Regions from separate parts of the Homo sapiens genome. Here regions 1 and 2 are each reported to be linked to region 3. Evidence: microRNA targets listed by miRTarBase, many of them from high-throughput screens and not tested one by one. Region 3 holds a microRNA gene; each other region holds the end of a gene's coding sequence.
What was found. The annotated mature microRNA hsa-miR-4706 reads AGCGGGGAGGAAGUGGGCGCUGCUU and lies in region 3 at 4,125-4,149, opposite strand. An mRNA with a match to its seed (bases 2 to 7 or 8) in the 3' UTR can be bound and repressed. Matches are read on the target gene's strand: a 7mer-m8 pairs with bases 2 to 8, a 7mer-A1 pairs with bases 2 to 7 and ends in A, and an 8mer does both.

Region 1 (7,188 bases), not on the chromosome of region 3:
CTACATCCCCACACAGCAAGATGTGCTACGGACCCGCGTAAAGACCACGGGGATCGTGGAGACACACTTCACCTTCAAGGACCTACACTTCAAGTGAGCGAGCATGTGGACAGGTGGGAGGGGCAGGACCTGCCAGCCTCTGGGGTAGCAGAGGCAGGGGCTGGTCCAGGATCCCCCAGCCCCACTGAGGTTTTACAAGGCTCATGTGTTCTGGGCAAGCACATCCTCACCACCTAGTGAACCAGCAGTCAGGATCCACGCCACCTCTGCCAGCTGCTCACAGCCTCTGCTGCTCCTGCCTGATGTGGCTGCAGCCTGCCTGCTGTCCAAGCTCCTGGCCCAGAACCAGGGGTGAAGTGGGCAAGTGTGGATGATTCCAGAAGGTAGCTGCCCTACTCTGGGCAGGCCTCTGTCCTCAGTCAGCCAACCTGAGAAATGGGGTAGAAAGCCTCCCCCAGGCTCCCTTCCTGGAACTAAGGTGATCTATATCTGCAGGATGTTTGATGTGGGTGGTCAGCGGTCTGAGCGGAAGAAGTGGATCCACTGCTTTGAGGGCGTCACAGCCATCATCTTCTGCGTAGCCTTGAGCGCCTATGACTTGGTGCTAGCTGAGGACGAGGAGATGGTGAGAGGATGAGAGAATGCTGCGGGTGGGGGCAGCGGGCTTGGGGAGTGGTGGCTAGCGTTGACCTTGCTATTCTACCCCCAGAACCGCATGCATGAGAGCATGAAGCTATTCGATAGCATCTGCAACAACAAGTGGTTCACAGACACGTCCATCATCCTCTTCCTCAACAAGAAGGACCTGTTTGAGGAGAAGATCACACACAGTCCCCTGACCATCTGCTTCCCTGAGTACACAGGTGTGGGGACTGTGGGGATAGGGCCTCCAGAGGGTTGCTTCTTGTCCCAAGTAGCCTATGGTGACCAGGTGGCCCTCAGGCGCCCCCCACTGGACAGAAGTGTAACCTTGGAACACTGGCAGGGGCTGGTGCCTCACTTAGGCTTGTATAGTTGTGTGTGCACACATGAAGCCCTTAACACACTCAAGCATGTACCCCTGAACATGTGTACATGGGCATCCTCCTTCACACAGTGGGGTACCCCTTTGCACATCTGGCATGTATGGGCAGCCACAAACATTGTCATATTATGCACATGCATGCACAGGTTGTATGCCTGGCCGTCCACACGCACAGACCCTTGCTGCACACGTAGGATGCGGCCTGCCTGCCACACATGCAGCACAAGTCTTCATTTTCTCTCCCCCAGGGGCCAACAAATATGATGAGGCAGCCAGCTACATCCAGAGTAAGTTTGAGGACCTGAATAAGCGCAAAGACACCAAGGAGATCTACACGCACTTCACGTGCGCCACCGACACCAAGAACGTGCAGTTCGTGTTTGACGCCGTCACCGATGTCATCATCAAGAACAACCTGAAGGACTGCGGCCTCTTCTGAGGGGCAGCGGGGCCTGGCGGGATGGTGAGCCAGAGGGGCTGTGGCAGGGTGCTGGGGAAGAACTAAGCGGGCCTGGAGCCCCAGCAGGGGGTTCTGGGGGTGGGTAGGGGGGTGAACCTGGAGGGGGAGGGGCAATAGGTGACCAGGGGACAAGGGAGGAGAAGGCCCAGGGTGTGAATCAGGAGGTCAAGTGAGTGAGGTGCAGGGCATGGAGGAGGTCATACAAGCAGGCCTGGCCCAGTGGTCCAGACAGAAGGGCCTGGCCTTGCCCTGGGACAGAACCAGAGGCCATCCTGATGTTCCCTGGAGAAATCTCACCTCCTCACCCACCAGGCCATTGGCCCAGCCTGCCGGAAGCTGCATGCCAGCGGAGCCCAGCCCTGCTGCCCACTACCACCAGCTCCATGTGCACCTCCAGCTCTTGCCCTCTGACTTGTCTGAGCGTCCCGGGCTTAGGCTGGCCCCACTGGCCCTGGTGGAGGTGGGGATGACTCTCCCAGTGCCACAGACTCCCCTCCCCCACGTAACCCAGCAACAGAAACTGGCTCCTGGGCGGCAACTGTGTCCCTGGTAACAAATGGGTAGGAAAAATAGAGAAGGGTCATTGTCTAGGGAGGCGGGAGAGAGGCACGCCCTGGCTGCTTCCCGATCCATGCTCTGCTTTCCCCCACCTCCAGGGCCACCGCCGACTTTGTACCCCCCAACCCCTGAGGAAGATGGGGGCAAGAAGATCACGCTCCCCGCCTGTTCCCCCGCCGCTTTTCTCCTCTTTCCTCTCTTTGTTCTCAGCTCCCCCTGTCCCCTCAGCTCCAGACGTAGGGGAGGGGTTGCCACAGGCCTCCCTGTTTGAAGCCTGCCCTTGTCTGAGATGCTGGTAATGGCCATGGTACCCCCTTCTGGGCATCTGTTCTGGTTTTTAACCATTGTCTTGTTCTGTGATGAGGGGAGGGGGGCACATGCTGAGTCTCCCAAGGCTGCGTCTGGAGGGGCCCCTGCTTCTCCAGCCTGGACCCCCAGCTTTGCCCAACACCAGCCCCTGCCCCAGCCCAAGTCCAAATGTTTACAGGGAGCCTCCTGCCCAGTCCCCCAACCCCAGCCGCTCGGAGGCCCCAAAGGAAAAAGCACAAGAAGCGTGAGACGCCACCATTCCTGGAAACCACAGTCCACCTGCTCATTCTCGTAGCTTTTTAAAAAAATGAAAGTAAAGGAAAAAAAAAAAACTGCAAATCTAGAAAACTTTTTAGAGAAAAACTATTTAAAACTGTCAGATCCTGACCAGCAAGCCCCCCCCCAGCCCCCCTTCCAAGTGACTCCGTGCCTTGAGTGTGTCTGCGTGTTTACACCCGTCCCTCTGCTGGCCGCCCCCGTGCGAGCGGCACCCCTGCCCTGCCCTCCACAGAATTGGGTTCCAAGGGCTGTTCCAGACAACTGCCAACGTCACTGAGGGCCCTGCCCCAGCGGCCCTGGCCCCAGGCTCTATTAACCTAAAATGTAGCTCCCTAGCGCTAACCTAGGAACCGCCGCTGCCTGCTGGGGGGCCACGCCCCTCATGCCCTTGTCCCAGGCCCGGGGCCTTCAGCGTTGAACACTTCCTTGCTTTTTTCACATGTTTTATGGAATTGTTCACCTGGTTTGAAATAATAAAATGTAGAAAGAAAAAAAATACCGAGAACTGATGGGTATTCTCTCCCAGGGGCAGAGGCCTGGGCTAAGGTGTGCCAAGGTGATGGTGGTCCTAACCTCAGTCCTCAACCTGAGTCAGGGCCCTGACTCAGCTTTCCGGGCCGTCCTGGAGCCCCACGCTCTGAGCTTCATTTCTCCCACCTGGACTAGGCAGCATACATGTGGGGCCCGTGTGTCCCCGCCCTTCCAGTACTCTGCAGCCTTGGGTCTCGGGCAGCTGGGCAGGCTTCTAAGGGAGCTGTTGTAAGGTGCTCTTCCACACCTGGAGCAGGAGGGGTGGCCGGCCTCTCTAGCGCGGAAGGAGAAAGTGACTTCCGACTTAGGTACCAAGGCCTGAGAGTGTCCGTTGCCAAGGCCACACAGCCAGGTGGGCCGCATGCAGTCCTGGCTTGACTAAAAAGGCCAGTAGGGGCCTTAAGACATATTCAGAAAGTTCCCTGCCCCAGAGGGCCGCCGCCAAACCTGAAGGGTAGTGACAGGTGGCCATACTACCATGTGATGGTTGCCCCAGGCTGGGCCTGGAGAGCTGCAGATCATTGACTCTGAAGATGGAAGGCTCCATGAGGCTGTGGGAAGGGCCCGCGCGTTTCTGGGGAAGGGAATTGCAGATGGCAAGGCTGGTGATGCTTGTGGGGCGGGCCCTGAGTGCCATCGAGGCGCCTGGACCTTCTCCCGGGGGCAGCCGCGGCCTGAACGTGTGGGGGCGGGCTCGCGGAAAGGCTGGCCTCGACTGGGTGGGGCTCCGGCGTTGGCGCATCCGCCTCCGGCCGCCAGGGGGCGCCGCCGCCCGTGCTCTGCCCTGCCTGGCTGGTCACAGAGGCTGACGTCAGCGGGTCCCGCGGAGGCCGCTGGACACAAAGGCAGCTTTGTGAGGCGGCGACGGCTCCGCGGCCGCCCCAGGACAGAGCGGCCTGGGCAGAGGGCGGGCCGGGGTCGGCGCCGCGGAGGCGGGGAGGGAGGGAGGGTTGGAGGGTTGAGCCAGAGACCCGGGACCCCGTCCCCGCACACCTGCCAGTGCCCCGTAGCTTCGGCCGCCGGCACTGGCAGGAGATGAAAGGCTGCTGCCGCCCGGTCGGAAGGACATCGGCGCCCCCCAGGCCCGGTCCCCGCCCCAGTTCCTCGGGCCTTTCCTGCTGCCCCTGCCTGCGAGGGCCGACGACACGGAGAACAGGATCCTGCGCCCAACCCAGGTCCCCGCCTTCTTTCAGAGGCCCAGGCCTGGACCCCGCTGAGCCGCAGATGTGCGAGCAGGAGCGCCAGAGCCCCGATGCCCGCCCAGCAGGAAGCGGGCGGGAGATGGTTCCTTCCTTCTGTCCTGAGGGGGAACCCTGCACAGAGGGACCATTGAGGGCCTGGCATTGTCTGCCTAACTCACCCAGTGCCTCCCTCCCTGGGTGGGCCATGCGGGGCCTTGACAGGATTGCCCTGGTGCCGTCTTGGCAGTGGGTCTGGGTGGGATCCTGGGGGCAGGGCTTCCCTGAGTGCAGACAGCTAGGCCTCCACCTGCCCCGGCCTCCCACCCAGGCTCAGATTTCCAGGGCATAAGGCTCCATTGTCCCAGCACTGGTGGAGGCGGCCTGTCAATTCAGCCTTGTGTTTGGTGGTTGGGAAATTCCCAGCCATGGGGGGCTGCAGGCAGGAAGGGGCTGCCCAGGTGTCCTGCACCCCAACTGAAGGGACTCCATGAGGTTGGTTCCTGGGCATCCCCTGCTGCCTGGAGCTGTCCCAGGCTGGACCTCAACCATTCATCAACCCTCAGGAGCAGTTGGGTGAGGAGCACCAGAAATTCAATGCTCCCTGGCGCTGCATCCCCAGAGCCCTCCCAGCCTAAGAAGCCCCATCTTTCTGTCTCCACGCATGGAGAACTGCAGCTGTGAGGCCCAGGACCCTTAGCAGGACATGCAGAGCTGGGCAGGGACCCAGGCTCATGCTCCCAGCGTGGGGTGAGTTGTCTCCAGCCTGTGGAGACTGCCATGAAGTTGATCTGCCTCCCAGAGGGCCTGGCCCACTTGAAATAATTGCTCCGGCTACTGATGTGGTGGGAACTTTGGTATTTTTAACCCATTTGGGGGGTGGGGGAGCAGCTAGGAAGAGAGAGGCAAGCTTTCAGAGTCAGAGAGGCCTGAGAGAGGAGAGTAGAGGGAAACTCAGTGAGGAGGAGCCAGGCAGGCTGCCTCGGTAGTTCCCCAGGCCTAGACACCCCCCCTGTACCACCCCCTGTCCCAGCAGGTAGGTGCAGACCTAGATGCCAGGTGCAGAAGGGGGAAAGGGCCCTCTCCAGGGTTACAGCAGGGATCACCGAGGCTGCAGGGGCTGCCAAGGCCTGGAAGAAGTCCCATGTTCCAGGGAGCCCCATGGCTTCTGATGTCAGGAAAACTTAGTCCTCTCAGTTCCCCAGAATCATTTCACCCCACCCCACCCAAACTGAGTGGCAAACCAGTTGAGTAGAGAATACAAGCCCTGACTCCAGCTGCCTGGTCAGTGGCATAGCCAGCCAAGTCCTAGCAACCCTAGGAGTCAGGGAGTCAGGGAGGAGGCAAGGACAAGACTACAGTATTGTTTGGCTGAGTTCTGGGTCTGGCCCCACTCCCCAAAACTGACCCCAATCTCTGTGTCTGCTGCCCTAAAAAGAGACCCTGGGGCTGGGTGTGGTGGCTCACGCCTGTAATCCTAGCACTTTGGGAGGCCAAGGTGGGCGGATCACTTGAGATCAGGAGTTCAAGACCAGCCTGGCCAACATGGTGAAACCCCGTCTCTACTAAAATACAAAAATTAGCTGGGCATGATGACGGGTGCCTGTAATCCCAGCTACTCAGGAGGCTGAAACAGGAGAATCACTTGAACCCAGGAGACGGTGGTTGCAGTGAGCCAAGATTGTGCCACTGCACTCTAGCCTAGGTGGCTGAGCGAGACTCCATCTCAAAAAAATAAATAAAAGGAGACCCTGACTGGATGTAGTGGCTCATGCCTTAATCCCAGCACTTTTGGAGGCCAAGGCAGGAGGATCACTTGAGGCCAAAAGTTTGAGACCAGCCTGGGCAACATAGCAAGACCCCGTCTCTTAAAAACAAAAGATCCTAGCGGTCCTCATCTCTACCATGGACTACCAGAGGGAAGGCAGCACCTCTCATCACCCAGGGGGATGGCCTCCAGTCAGCTGGGGTATGTATGCAGCTGTGTGGCAGCAAATATGTCCATGCCTGCAAGCCACTCAGCCCTCAGTCACACGGTGATGGGCACTAATATCCAAGAGGAGCAGAAGTCAAGGCCATGGGTCCTTTTCTCCCCTTGCCAGAGATGCAGCCCCACAGTCCCTGGTGATCTTGGCTGGGAGAAAAATCAGAGTTTGACATCTCATCCCACTGCCTTCTGCTTTCTGACCTTACTGAGGTCAGGGTCATCAAGGCCTGGGGGACTGGGACAGGGTTAAGGGGTGTCCTTTCTCCATCCGTCTTCCAACCCCGTGGAGACTCAGCATGCCTAGGAAGGTGGAAGGGCTTCCTGCGGGCACACCATCTCCCGCCTCCCTGTGCCTGTCCTCTGCTGGGTCCTGGGTTCTCCAGTGATTATAGCCCTTGCTGCTTCCCCCACAGTGGGGAACACAGAGCCCTGCCCAGAGGCTTGAACCTGGCACCACAGGGGTCTGGAATTACACAGAAGACGGGTGACAGCCAAGGTGGATCATGAACGGTGAGAAGTCCAGCAGGTGACAAGGGGAAGGGTCTAAAGGGTGGAGGGCACAGCGCAAGCAAAGTCTTGGCAACAAAAGAGCTAATGCATCCCAGAAATGGGGCAGGTGGAGTACTGGAAGCTACACCAAGCTTCAGAGTGGTCCTGTGGCCTCGGTGTGGTAGCTCAGGCCTATAATTCCAACACTTTGGGAGGCTGAGGCAGGAGGAGGATAACTTGAACCCAGGAGTTCAAGATCAGCCTGGGCAACATAGTGAGACCTCCATTTTTACAAAAAATACAAAAATTAACTGTGTGTTGTGGTGTGTGCCTGGAGTCCCAGCTCCTCGGGAGGCTGAGGTGGGGGGATCAC
Region 2 (7,188 bases), not on the chromosome of region 3:
CTAGGTTTGGCTGTCTGTGACTTACGGGACCGTCCTGCTGAGAAATTGCACTGAAGAGATGCCCCCACCTCTGGTTGGGCCTGGGGGTGCCTGGCCTTCCGAAACTAAAAGAGTGGGTGGGAAGACTAGTGAAACCCAGTTCACGGATGGGGAAACAGGCCTGAGGTCACATTTCACTTAGTGGTTGTGTTGGGACCAAAACCTGGGTGTCCTCACTGCTGCCCTGAGTCCAGCCATGGTTTTCAGGGGGACAGTGGACAGGGACTCAGAAATGTGGTGGGAGGGCCTCCCTGGCTTGGGAGACCGCTCTCTGCAAGGGAGGGGGAGAGAAGCAGAGGGAGAGAGAAGGTGACACGGATGGAAGAGTGGGAAGGAGCTGGCCTGGCTCAGCCCTAGGCTGTCCCTGCAGCCAGGGTGTCCGGGGGCTGGCCAGTCAGAGAAAGGGGGCCATGGACTGCTGTGGCAAATAGGGAGACAAGGAGACAGACCCTGCAGTCCTACTACAGTCTGGAGTGGGGTCCTAAGAAGAAGGGTCCCACCTCAACCCCTGTCAGTGTCCACTGTGGGGTGGGGGCTGACCCCTGCCTTTGATTGTCATTCTCCTGGGAAGCCCAGTCTCAGTCCCTCCCCCAACACTGTCCACACTGCCCCTCCCCACTGTTTATTTATTGCACGGATCTAAGTTATTCTCCCCAGCCAGAGCCCGAGCTCCTGCTCCCTGGGAAAAGTGGCGTATGGCCCTGAGCTGGGCTTTATATTTTATATCTGCAAATAAATCACATTTTATCTTATATTTAGGGAAAGCCGGAGAGCAACAACAAAAAATGTTTAAGCCGGGCGCGGTGGCTCACATCTGTAATCCCAGCACTTTGGGAGTCCAAGGAGGGGGATCGCTTGAGTCCAGGAGTTTGAGACCAGCCTGGACAACATGGTGAAACCCCATCTCTACAAAAAATACAAAAATTAGCCATGCATGGTGGCTCATGCCTGTAGTCCCAGCTACTTGGGAGGCTGAGGCAGGAGGATCACTTAAGCCCAGAAGGCAGAGGTTGTAGTGAGCTGAGATCGCACCACTGCACTCCAGCCTGGGCAACATAGCAAAATCCTGTCTCAAAAAAAAAGTTAAAAAATATTGCCCGGCTCCTAGAATTTATTTATTTCCTGACTTACAGCAAGCGAGTTATCGTCTTCTGTATTTTGTAGACTTTCTAAATAAAGTCAAATTCTTTCTTTTTCCACAGAGAATAAATGTGTATCCTGGACTATGTTTTTTGGCGAGGGGTGTCTAAAATGGGGTTCTGCTTTCAACCCCTTAGGGCTTCTGGTGGCGGGGAGGGCTAGTGCACATCACCAGCTATTGCACAGGGTATGAGGTGGAGGGGAGATGGCGACAGAGACCAGTGATGCTGAAACTTCGATGCTTCCTCTTGGTTGCTTAGAGCACAGGAGCTCCTGGGAAGACAAAGCCATGGGCACAATGAAATTTAGGACTGGATTCTGGCGGAGCATGGTGGCTCACACCTGTAATCCCAGCACTTTGGGAGGCTGAAGCAAGAGGATCATCTGAGACTAGGAGTCCAAGAGCAACCCGGGCAACATAGTGACACCCCATCTCTACAAAAAATAAAAAATAATTAGCCACATGTGGTGGTACACATGCCTATTGTTCCAGCTACTGAAGAGGCTGAGGTGGGAGGATCACTTGAGGCCAGGAGTTTGAGACCAGGCTGGGCAACATAGCAAGACCCCCATCTCTACAAGAAATTTAAAAGTAAGAAAACAGGCCGGGCGCAGTGGCTCACACCTGTAATCCCAGCACTTTGGGAGGCTGAGGCGGGTGGATCATTTGAGGTCAGGAGTTCAAGACCAGCCTGACCAACATGGTGAAACCCCGTCTCTACTAAAAATACAAAAAACAACAACAACAAAAAAAAAACATGGCCCGGGTGCGGTGGCTCACGCCTGTAATCCCAGCACTTTGGGAGGCTGAGGCAGGCGGATCACGAGGTCAGGAGATCGAGACCATCCTGGCTAACACGGTGAAACCCCGTCTCTACTAAAAATACAAAAAACAACAACAACAAAAAAAAAACATGGCCCGGGTGCGGTGGCTCATGCCTGTAATCCCAGCACTTTGGGAGGCTGAGGCAGGCAGATCACGAGGTCAGGAGATCGAGACCATCCTGGCTAACACGGTGAAACCCCGTCTCTACTAAAAATACAAAAAAAATTAGCCGGGCATGGTGGCGGGCGCCTGTAGTCCCAGCTACTCGGGAGGCTGAGGCAGGAGAATGGTGTGAAGCCGGGAGGCGGAGCTTGCAGTGAGCTGAGATCGCGCCACTGGACTCCAGCCTGGGCGACAGAGTGAGACTCCGTCTCAAAAAAAAAAAGAAAAACAAAACAAAAAACAGAAAAACATAGCTGAGTGTGGTGGCGCATGTCTGTAGTCCTGGCTACTCAGGAGGTTGAGACAAGAGAGAATCGCTTAAACCCGGGAAGCAGAGGTTGCAGTAAGCTGAGATCGCGCCACTGCACTCCAGCCTGGGTGACAGAGCAAGACTCCATCTCAAAAAAAAAAAAAAAAAGAAAAGAAAAGAAAAGAAAACAATTAGCCAGTCATGGTGGTGTGGTTGAGCCCAGGAGTTTGAGGCTGCAGTGAGCTATGATTGCACCACTGCACAATCTAGGTGACACAGACCCTGTCTCAAAAGAAGAAGAAATTTAGGGTTAAATTCCCTGGGCATCCCTTTAGTGAACAGACAGTCCCACCCAGAGAGGAAAAAACCCAGATTTCAGAGTAATTTTTCCAGCACTTTCACATTGAGATCTGATTTTCTACAGCCAAGTGGAAACTATCTTCCCCATGTTTCGGAATGCCCAGGGAGGCAGGGAGAGTGGCTTTCCCAGCCCCCACCTGCAGGCCTAAACCATAACCCTGTGTCTTGTCCTAGGCCTCAAACTCACTAATTTCAACCCAATCTGCCAGCCCTTCTGGGGCACCCTGAAGAAGGAGTGGAGTATACTGTGGTCTGTGGGTCACGGCAATTGGGGTTTGAATCTAGGTGTCTGTTCTTAGCTGTGGGATCTTTGGTACTTATTTGGTTTCTTACAGTCTCAGTTTACCATCTGTAAAATGAAGATGCTATGGGGCATTACGTGCGAAAAACCCTGGAGACCTGTGGGGCTGCAGGTTTTAACACTCCGAACACACATTTACAGTGGCACAGACCGAGGTGAGGCCAACTCTATGGCTGGGTATGGGGCTGGCTGGGTATGGGGCCCGCGGGGTAAGGGACCAGTTGGGCGAAGGTGCAGGATTTGAGTCCGGGAAAGGGCCAGATCACGTAGGTAGGCCGTGTCCACGGGGCTTTCTCCCCTTCTCAGGTTGGGGCTCGGTGCTTTCCCTGCCAAGCCCATGACCCTGAAATGCTGAGCTCAGGCCTGCGGGAAGGGCAGCAGGAAGCTGCGGGAGGACGCAGGCTATTTACCCGCCTCGGGAGGCTGGTGGGAATTCCCCCACCCACACCGCATTCCTGAGTGCTCCCGTCAGCAGCAAGCCAGGCCCCAAGAAGGCATGCGGTACCAGAGAGGCCAGGCACTGTGCCCACAGCCAGCGGCCCCCTGCCCCAGGGTCCCTGGCCCTGAGGGTCCCAGGGTGGAGGACAGTCCCAGAGACGCAGGAAGCTCGTCTGAAAGGGGGATCCCAGGAAATCCTGGGAGATGCCTGCAGGAGCGGGGCTGCCAGCATGTGGGCCCCATGGACCTGGTTGACCAAACAGGGAAGGAGCATCGACCGCCTGCGGCCCGGCCGTCCTGGGTTGGGAACTGGCTGGAGGTTGGGGAGACCCTTTGTCCAAGGGGGGCCTGGGCCTTGACCTTGGTCCCTATCAATCCGAACCCCCATCACTGAAAGGTTACACACAGGAAGGAGAGGGTTTCCTAAGCCGCCTGTACCCACAGCCACTCCACCCACCCCAAAGCCAGAGCAGGGGGCAGGGAGGAGGAAGGAAAAACCTCACCCACAGGCAGAGATTTCAATACAATCTATATTATCTCATATATAGATTTCTTCCTCACTTTATTTGCTCACTTCTGTCACGCATTTAAAATGTCACAGAGACCAAAATAGAGTGGCTTTCTGGTGGAACTCATGGCAGTCATACAACAAGATACAAAACTAGGAGACTCTGTCTTCTCATACATCATACAATTAATTTTTCAAGTATTCTTTATGTACAAAGAGCTACTCTACCTGGAAAGAAAATTAAAAAAAAAAAAGACAAGGTAGGTTATGCATCCTAAGGAGGAGGAGGGGATGGAGCGGTCGGGCACATGTTCCCGTCCCCACGACCCCACGGACCGCTGATTCCCTGCCACTGAGCTCCCCCCACCCTCCACGCAAACAGCAACGCTGGGCAGGCGAAAACCAAGGGAGTGGGAATCAGCAGCACTTTGGCCTGGAGGGAGAAGGGAAGCCACGGTGGAGAGACAGCTTGGTGAAAGCAGATGGCGGGGCAGGGCCAGGGCTGGTCCTCAGCCTGTGTCTGCACCCACCCTCCCGGGCAGCTTGGGCCCAACTGCTCCGCCCCCCCAAGATGGAGGGGGAGAGCTGGCCTCTGGCACCCACATGCAGGCCTCTGCCACGAGGAAAGGAAGGAGGCCAGGAAGACGGCTGGGCCCCAACTCTCCTCACAGGTGGCAGGGAGGGAACCTGTTCATTCCAGGAAGGACCAAAAGAAAGAATCCCCAGTGAACACCGGCAGGGTCCCTCTCCCTTACCCTACCAGCTTCTCCAGGTGACTGCAGCCCAAACCCAGGGATAATCTGGGTTTTAAATGCCAGGACACTTTGCCTGTAGGGACACGTGTTGTGACACGAGGCTCTTCCTAAGTCAGGAGCTAGTATAAGCCCAGCCTGCTGGGGGTTCCGGAGGCCCCAGGTCTAGAGGTGTGGAGGGGGAGAGGAGGGGCTTGGTGGTCCTGACCACTCCTGAGGCCTGTCCAAGGGCTCTGGGCCCAGCACTGCAGGATCCTGCGAGTGCCAGCAGCTGAACTAAGAGCCCCAGGGAGCGTGTGGGACAGATGGGGAGCCAGGGAGGGGCGCTTTCATATGTGACTAAGGCACAGAAGAGATGGGCCAGGGGCCAGATGGGGTAGAACACCAGGCCCTGTGTGGATAGGGGCCCCGAGAGGAGTCTGGGACCATTCCCCCCACCTCCCAGCTCCCCACTGTGTGGCCACCCCTCCCGGTCTCCCTGCCGGACTGCCTTCCCCCAGAAGCTGGTCTGAAACGTGGAGACTCAGACCTTTCCCCTGAAACGGGAGGGAGAAGCCCCAAAGAGAGAGAGGACCCAGCATCAGCCTGGGAAGGAGGGCTGGGAGCCCCTGAGCCCTGAAGCAGCCAGGAAGCAAGGGCTCTGCCCAAAGCTATCGAGGAAGGACCCAAGTGAGCCGGCAGTGCGGGCTGTGGGCTGTCCTTGGTAGGCCAGGGGGAAGGGGCATGAGGCAGGCAGAGGTGTGGCCACGACAGGTGGGGATACCCAGGGGCCCAGAAGCCCCTGCTTCAACAGAAGCGGTGCCCAGGGGCCCTGAATGCCCTTCCTGGGTGGGGCCTGTGACTCCTGGTGTCTGGCTCTGATCCTTGCAGCATGCCACAGAGGCCTGGGTCAGGAGGGGAGGACCACAGAGCGCCCACATCCCCACTCCTGCCCGGGGTGAGGTGAATCTAGCACTGGACAAAGGTGGACAGGGGAGGGATGCAGGCGGGAAGAGCCCAGGTCAGACAGGGTATTGCACGGTGTGTGGGGGAGCCACGGCTTGCCGACCTCAGCCTGAGAGTCTCGCGGGGAGGAGGGGCTAGAAGGCTGCAGCCGCTGGTCCACACACAAGCATTGGGGCCTGGGTGCGGCTGGTCCCAGCATGCCCCCAGCACAGGACGGGCAGCAGGGGCATAAGCCTTGCTCCCAGTGTCCTCTGCCCTCGCCCGGGCAGTGCAGGCTGGGCCATGTATAAATATTCCTGAAGGCCCATGGGCGAGCCTGGCTGTCCCCCGTTCCTCTGGAAGTGACATGTGAGTGTTTCTGGTCCAATAAATAAAGGCGGCGTGAGCACTGTGCCAGCTGCCTCCTGGCCTGGTGGTGAGGCTGGAGGTGGGGCACAGCCTGACCGTGGCTATGGCGCCAGCACTTCCGCCACTGCAGCCCGCACCTAGAATTCATCATCAGAGCTGAGCAGGAGAGTCTTCTCGTTGTCGCGGGCGCCACTGAGGCTGTGGGAGCGGGAGAGGCCGTGGGCGCCACCACGCCAGGTGGGCCCAGGCTCCAGGGTGGACTGCTGCGTGTACTGCTGGTAGGCAGGTGAGAAGTTGTGGATGGCGTCCTGCACGATGTCGTGCGGGTTCATGGTCTCCTTGAGGCTGCTGGAGATGCTCTTCATGGGGGCACAGCGGCCTGCCGGGCAGGGAGCGGGAGGGGCAGGTGAGGAGGCTGGGACGGTGAGAGGGAGGTGGCTCAGCCCCTGCCCGTGATCCTGGGACAGACACCCCCCAACCCAAAGCTATGCCCTTCAACCATCCCTTCTGGGACAGAGAATGGGGTCCAGGATATGAGAAGGGGCAGGAAAAAATGGACTTCTTTGGCTGGGGAGCCCCAAGGGGAGGCTGGACTGTGAAGAGGAGCAGACATAAACCCCCACTGGGAGCTGGGCTGGCTGCAGGGAAGGGACCCAGGGTGGAGACTGGCAAGCTATGGGCAGTGAGCCTAGAATGCCCCAGAGAGGCCAGAGCAGGCTCAGCACTGACTGAAGTTGGGGCATGTGGGGCCAGAGGGCCTGGAAGCCAGGGGTGCCCGGTTCCACAGGTGCCAGGCGCGTCCCCCACCACCGGGGGAAGTGCTGTGCTCCCTCTACTCTGGAGATCAGGACCAGGCTGGCCTGCACCCCCAGGGGAGCAGATGCGACTCACTGGCTCCCTCTAAGAGGGCTTCCTCCTCATCTCTCTAATCAACTGTCCCCATCCTCAGGGGCTCAGAGCAGAAAGGTGGCCCAGGACACCTGGATGTAAGGGACGAGCCCACCCCTGGAACCCAGGATTCCTGACTCAGCTTGTGAACTCTTGGAAACATCGTGAAATGCCCCGATATCCCATGAACAGCACTGTGCCCCCAGAAGAAGGCGGGGCATATTCCAGAAC
Region 3 (7,188 bases):
AAAGTCTTGCTCTGTCGCTCAGGCTGGAGTTGCAGTGGCACTCTCTGCCTGCAACCTCTGCCTCCCAGACTCAAGTGATCCTTCTACCTCAGCCTCCTGAGTAGCTAGGACTACAGGCATGTGCCACCATGTCTGGTTAACTGTTTTTAATTTTTTGTAGAGACAAGCTCTCACTATATTGCCCAGGCTGGTCTTGAACTCCTGAGCTCAAGAGGTCCTCCTGCTTTGGCCTCCCAAAGTGCTGGGATTATGGTCATGAACCACCATGTCCAGCATTTTAAGGTACTAATAGTAATTCCTTCTTCTACTCAAATACTGTCATTTACACATAGAAGGTAGTCAATGGCATGGAGCCACTGATGGTCACTTGCTGGGTCAGGGCATGGCCTAGACCCACGTGCTGCACTATGTAGAGCATTCTTTTTGCTTTTTAGTTAGCAATATGATCAATGCCTTTTAAAAAATGTATTTGTACATTTACCAAAATAAAATTAGTAATGCACATGGTTTTTTTTTTTTTAAAGGCACAGTATAATACAGAAGGATAGAAAATCTAAAAAGTTGGCCAGGTATGGTGGCTCACGCCTGTAATCTCAGCACTTTGTGTGGCCAAGGAAGGTGGATCACTTGAGGCCAGGAGTTTGAGACCAGCCAGGCCAACATAGTCATATCCTGTCTCTACTAAAAATAGAAAACATTGGCTGGGTGTGGTGGTACACGCCTGTAATCCCAGCTACACAGGAGGCTGAGGCAAGAAAATCAATTGAACCGAGGAGGCTACAGTGAGCCGAGATTGCACCACTGCACTCCAGCCTCAGCAACAGAGTGAGACTCTGTCTCAAAAAAAAAAAAAAAAAAAAAAAAAAATCTAAAAAGTCTCCCTCCTTCTGTCTTCTGTCTGCTTCTCTTCTCCCAAAGGTACCCATTGTTCAAGGGGTTTTGTGTAGGGTTCCAGGAAAAGCTGTGTACATCTCGGGCTGTGTGCCCAGGCACTGCTCCAGGCCCCGCCCCCTTACACTTCATGTTGTATCTTGCAGAGCTTTCTATATCAGCCCATGGTATGCAGCTACTGTTTGGAGAGATTTTTATTATTTAACCCTTAACCTTTTGATAGGCACTTAGGCTGCTATTGAAACTCCACTTCAATATACATCCTTTGCTAATATCCCTGCAGGTAAATTCCTGACAGTGCACTTGCTGTGTTCAAAGGGTAAGTGCCCTTATAATTTAAATGGATGTCTCCAAACTGCCCTCCAAAAAATGACTTAACCTATTTACATCCCCACTATCAAATTACCTGTTTTCTCACACTCTCCCCAACATAGGGTATCAAGTTTTTTAATCTCTGCCAATCCAATAATAAAAACAAATAGTGCCACTCTTTTGATTAGCATTTCTTTTACTACAAGTGAGCTAAACAATTTTTCGTTGGATTAATGGCCACCTACTGTGGTTATGAGCAGGGCAGGGTTCAGATGCCAGCTAGTCTGGATTCACACAACCACATACTAACCCTTGTGAGTGCCAATCAGGTATTATAAAGCAATCACTTAACCTCACTGTAGTTTGTTTCCTCATCTGTAAACAATGGTACCTATTTCATAGGGTTGTTTTGAGAATTAAATGAGAAAACATATGTGAAATGCTCAGTACAGCCCCTGGCATACAGTGAGGGCTTGGGAAGACTCCGCTACCAGTAGTAGTGGCAGTTGTAGTAGAAAAAGTAAGAAGGACAGTTCTTTCACTGGGACCTCTTTCTTCAGATCCTTTGCCTGTTTTTCAGTTGGGTTGTCCATCCATTTCTTACTGGTTTGTATGATTTTTTTTCAAATTAAAGAAATTAGCCATTCATCACTTGTTATAAATATTTTTCGCACCTTTTTGCTTGTTTTGTTTGTAGAATTTCCCTGTTTCTGTAAAATAACTTTTGTTGTCTTTTTTTATGCAAGAAATACCTATTAACTATAGAAAGATTAGAAAATACAAACAGAAGCAAACATCACCTGTAACTTCACATCCTAGATACTTTCTATGAATTTTTTGTAGTCAACTCTTCACTAAAAATGGGATTCCACACATATTGCTTTGATATGATCACAATATATTGTGACTATCTTTCTACACTGCATCCCCTTTTGACTCCCAAAGTCAGTATTTTGCCCTCCTTTCAACACACTTCCCTTCTTTACAGACTCCTGTCTGTTCCAAGTTCAAGAGATGCCCTGTGTCTGAGAAGACAACACAGGCCTTCTCCCAGCCAATGAAAAAAGCTGGAAGCACCAAGATTCATAGGCACCCTTTTCCATAGACAAAGCTTTGAATGCCACTAAGCCCCCTAGAACATGTGCTACAAGAAACAATTAACCAGCAGCCCCCCTGGAAGACTTTGACAGGTGGTGCTCCTGTTATAGCTCATTCCACATTTCCCTGGGATTGCAGAATTACTGAGTCTTATCCATGCCAGGGACAGGTTTGTAAAAGACTGACCATTTTACCAGGGGCTTGACCTCACCAGTTCCAAATAAAGAGATCACCATGACCCCAAGTTTTTTTCTATCTTAGAAATGTTGGGCCAGGCACGGTGGCTCACGCCTGTAATCCCAGCACTTTGGGAGGCCAAGGCGGACAGATCACCTGAGGTCAGGAGTTCGAGACCAGCCTGACCAACATGGAGAAACCCTGTCTCTACTAAAAATACAAAATTGGCTGGGCGTGGTGGTGCATGCCTATAATCCCAGCTATTTAGGAGGCTAAGGCAGGAGAATTACTTGAACCCAGGGGGCAGAGGTTGCAGTGATCCATTGCACTCCGGCCTGGGCAACAAGAGTGAAACTCCGTCTCAAAAAAAAATAATACTAAAATAAAAAATGTTTGACTTGGGGAATTCCTGACTTCCCTACTGGTGGTCAAGGCAGAGACTGTGCAGGCTCCAAAGTCAGTGCACTTGCTGACAGTGCACTTGCTGTGTTCCAAGGGTAAGTGCCTTATATGCCTTAATACTGACACCTAAAGCCCAGTGGGCCCAGGCCGGGAAAATGGGACAGAGGCTCTGCTTACTTTAATTCAGTGTCAGAAATGGTCACAACTCAACAACTCAAAGGAAATTAAGAAACTAAATAATGAGGCTCAGGGCCGGGTGCGGTGGCTCACGCCTATAATCCCAGCACTTTGGGAGGCCGAAGTGGGCGGATCACCTGAGGTAAGGAGTTCAAGAACAGCCTGTCCAACATGGTGAAACCCTGTCTCTACTAAAAATACAAAAATTAGCCAGGTGTGGTGGCACGCGCCTGTAGTCCCAGCTACTCAGGAGGCTGAGGCAGGAGAATTGCTTGAACCTGGGAGGTGGAGGCTGCAGTGAGCCAAGATCGTGCCACTGCACTCCAGCCTGGGAGACAGAGCACGACTCCATCTCGGGGGCGGCGGGGAGGGGGGAAGACGGGGGGTGGGGGGCTCAGAAACAGGAAAAAAAAGTATGGGGAGGGGCAGAAAAGAATCTCATCTTTTACATTTGAGCAGTTACATTATCCAACTAAGTCCGAAGAACAGCTTCTCTTTGGACCCAGGGATCTCATTCCAAAAACAGATCAGCAACCAGCAGGGCCCCATGACTTCCTCTCTCCCACAGGTCTACTCAGAGACACCTGCTCTCACATCAAGTACACCAGAAAGATGGTGCAGGAGTTAGCAGGCAGACTGAGGTTTCAAGAGATAGAGAGAGAATGTTCCCAGACTTTTTGCTCACTAACTACTTCGGTTTTGCGTTCCCATTTGAGACCCCACAGAAACGAACGTGGATTTCTCTACTCCAATGGTGCAGGTGGAACAAACTCCCATTTAGGCTTATTCAATGAATGTAAAATAAAACATTTCTAATAGTGACAACTCTGCAGCCAGTCAGACACGGCGAGTCTCTTCTCCATGGTGTAGGGGCAACCCACCCCTACAACCCACCCCTACACATGGGTTCTGGTTCTCTACCCCTTTACGCAGTTGCCTTTCCTGTTGCTGTTGCAACAGTGACTGTTGCAACACTGAGGGTTTTCAGCTCTGCCCTGCACCCAGAGGAGGTGGCAATCACCACAGAGCCCAGGACAGGAGTGGGCTGCTCCTTCCAGATAACGCAGAAGCAGCGCCCACTTCCTCCCCGCTCCCCGTAGCAATTTCAAGGAAGCTCATTCTGTCGCAGCCAATTTGAAGAAGCAAAGAATGACACTAAACCAATGAAACTAAATCTTACTCTGCATTCGCATGCCCCACGGCATGAGGTTCCACACTGGGCACTCAAAATCCAGGATAGACAGAGCTCATTTCAACCCCTCTAAAAAAGCACGCTGGGCTTCCAGACTTTGTGAGTAGTGGAGGGAAATCATCCAGCCCCAAGTGAACAGCTCCCCAGGCTCACCTTGGGCGTGCAGTGCGCGGTGGAGCAGGGGCAGGAGCCCCGCCTGCCAGAAGGAGTAGCAGCCATCCACCAGCTTGTTGCAGCGGCCCTGAAATCCTCCTTCAAATCGCATCTGCCGGCTTGTCACCCATTGCTGAGGAGACACAGATGGGAAAGGCAGTTGTAGGCTAAAAGAGACAAAATCCAGCCCGACAGAATCTCCAGGAGTCAATCTGTGGGATGGAGGGTTTCCCATCTTGTGGCTTCTTGGCACTCTAGTTTTGGTGCTCTGGTTTTCTTTCCTTCCCTCCCCACACTGCCATAGACACAGAGTGAAGCATTTAAGCCAACGCTGTAGAGGCATCCAGCACTGATCTCTGCTCAATGCCTGGCAGACAACTACCTTTTCCTGGGTTCCAAAGCAGTGCCAGTGCTGAGAAGATAAAGAGGCCAAGCTGGTTTGTAAGGAGACCTTCAAAGTCTCTTAATAAACATGGCTTAAGTTGGAAATTGAAGGCAAGACTACCAGTAGCTCATTTCTCATTACTTCCCTGCTCCGGGGAGTTTATTAAAAGCAGATAAATGGAATTTGGTACTACATTTCTTTTTTTTTTTTTTTTTTTTTTTTTTTTTTTTGAGACGGAGTCTCGCTCTGTCGCCCAGGCCGGACTGCGGACTGCAGTGGCGCAATCTCGGCTCACTGCAAGCTCCGCTTCCCGGGTTCACGCCATTCTCCTGCCTCAGCCTCCCGAGTAGCTGGGACCACAGGCGCCCGCCACCGCGCCCGGCTAATTTTTTGTATTTTTAGTAGAGACGGGGTTTCACCTTGTTAGCCAGGATGGTCTCGATCTCCTGACCTCATGATCCACCCGCCTCGGCCTCCCAAAGTGCTGGGATTACAGGCGTGAGCCACCGTGCCCGGCCTGGTACTACATTTCATCAGATGATCTCAAACTGCTCCTGACTTTTACTTGGCACCTGGGGAAATTTACCCAAGGTCTCTTAGCAAGTCACTAGCAGGCCTGAAAGCAGAAGCCATTCATTCTAATTACCAAATGACAACTCTGCCCAGTCTGTGGCTGATATAAGAAAATCTTTTACTTTGAAGCTGTAAAATAGGTCTTGGTCTTGATGTCACTCAGCGGTCACACACGATACCACCATTCCTTGCTTATCTACAAGTTTTCTAAACACACTCTACTACAAAGATCAAGATAGTCATGGGTTTGGTCCCTCAGAATGAGCAGAACCAACTGGCTGAGCAGATATGACATTTCCATTTCCCTCCCTAGACCACCTAGGCCGTTCCAGCCACGGACTTACAGAGCTGCCTCACTCAACTGAAAGGGTACAGGGGAGGGTACTTCCTGTTTCTAGAGTCTTACTAGGTAAAGGTCCTGAAAGGAGCCACTGGGACCCTTGATGGAAGTGGGGGCCAGCCCTCCCCTAAAAGCTGTTGTTTAGATTATTCCCTCTTCAAGGCAACACCTGCCCATAGAGAGTCACAGTCACAAATGCTTAAAAGAGACAGAAAACACTGTACTGCAGGTTCAGGTACTAATATATCCTCGGTTGATCTTAAATGAACCAGGGCTTCCAGCATGTAATGGAAGTGGGCTAAGCATTACTCAGGCAGAGAGAAAGCAGGCGCTGCAGTGGGAGTCGGTTCCTCATTTCTACTTACCGCAGGGCTTAAGTGTTTTTAAGCAGACTAATTTACTTTTTCCAGTGCCTAAGCCCATGGATTTGTTCTGTTTCCTTGGGCTATAGGAATTCATACTTCAGATATGGGTCCTACTTCTCCCAAAGCAAATGGAAGGGAGTAGTCTGGATTAGAGCAGGGGTCCCTAACCCCCAGACCATGCCAGGCTGCACAGCAGGACATGAGTGGTGGGTGAGCCAGTGAAGCTTAATCTGTATTTACAGCTGCTCCTCACTGCTCCCATTACTGCCTGAGCTCCACTTCCTGACAGATCAGCAGCAGCATTAGATTCTCATAGGAGCGCAAACCCTACTGTGAACCGTGTATGCCAGGCTTCTAGGTTGCACGCTCTACATGAGAGTCTAATGCCTGATGATCTGTCACTGTCTCCCATCACCCCCAAATGGGACTGTCTAGTTGAAAGAAAACAAGCTCAGGGCTCTCACTGATTCTACATTATGGTGAGTTGTATAATTATTTCATTATATATTACAGTGTAATAATAGAAATAAAGTACACAATAAATGTAATGTACTTGAATCATCCTGAAGCCATCACCCCCCGTCCCACCCCCAACCCCAGGTCCACGGAAAAATTATCTCCCACAAAACTGGTCCCTTGTGCCAAAAAGATTATTACTGTGGGTTAGAGGGACACTAACATTTATTAAGTACCTACTATGTGCCAGGCTGTTTATAAATGTTCTCTCCTTTAACCTTAAAAAAATAAGGATTGTTATCCCTACCTTATAAAAGAAAAAAATATCAAGCTAAAAGAGATTAGACAATTTGCCCAAGGACTCATGTCTCAAATGTAGTAGGGACAGGGTTCAAATCTAGAACACTGTCTTTATAACTGAGGCACTCCCTAATCACATTCCTTATCTCTGCCTGGGAGATGGGACTTTTTTGTTTCATGCCTTATTGGTGTTCAGATTTTAAAACATCTGAGAAACTCTTAAGTTCAGCATACAAAGTTGGCTGTTTCAGCATGAGCCTTCAAGCCTTCATGAATCTTTAAAAAGACTACACCGGGGGAGGCTTTCTGAAGGTGGAGGCAAGACACTGCTGGTTACATGTCTACAGGGTACAACAGAAACTCTCCA

Region 1: miRTarBase lists GNAI2 as a target of hsa-miR-4706. Seed matches in the 3' UTR shown: 7mer-m8 at 2,201-2,207.
Region 2: the mRNA of TMEM184B is a reported target of hsa-miR-4706. Seed matches in the 3' UTR shown: 7mer-m8 at 5,842-5,848.

Annotation. Positions count from the first base shown.
Region 1 is chr3:50,256,228-50,263,415 of GRCh38, forward strand. GNAI2 (G protein subunit alpha i2) reads left to right here. Exons shown (of 9, transcript NM_002070.4): 5 at 1-93; 6 at 496-625; 7 at 710-863; 8 at 1,273-1,487; 9 at 2,141-3,135. The coding sequence ends at 1,463. It overlaps LINC03143 (long intergenic non-protein coding RNA 3143), which reads left to right and starts at 3,999. Exons shown (of 1, transcript NR_198941.1): 1 at 3,999-7,131. It also overlaps a transcript of SEMA3B not described here. RefSeq lists silencers at 960-1,009, 3,790-4,209 and enhancers at 3,989-4,494, 4,380-4,479, 5,002-5,506.
Region 2 is chr22:38,215,263-38,222,450 of GRCh38, forward strand. TMEM184B (transmembrane protein 184B) reads right to left here. Exons shown (of 9, transcript NM_012264.5): 9 at 4,029-6,448. The coding sequence ends at 6,207. It overlaps MAFF (MAF bZIP transcription factor F), which reads left to right. Exons shown (of 3, transcript NM_012323.4): 3 at 1-1,245. Among named protein-coding and RNA genes, the nearest start is that of SNORA92, 5.9 kb to the right of the region's middle. RefSeq lists enhancers at 2,944-4,143, 3,416-4,267.
Region 3 is chr14:65,041,658-65,048,845 of GRCh38, reverse strand. It overlaps MIR4706 (microRNA 4706), which reads right to left and starts at 4,158; the gene lies at 4,077-4,158. CHURC1-FNTB (CHURC1-FNTB readthrough) reads right to left here. Exons shown (of 14, transcript NM_001202559.1): 11 at 4,403-4,535. It overlaps FNTB (farnesyltransferase, CAAX box, subunit beta), which reads right to left. Exons shown (of 12, transcript NM_002028.4): 9 at 4,403-4,535. It also overlaps a transcript of MAX not described here.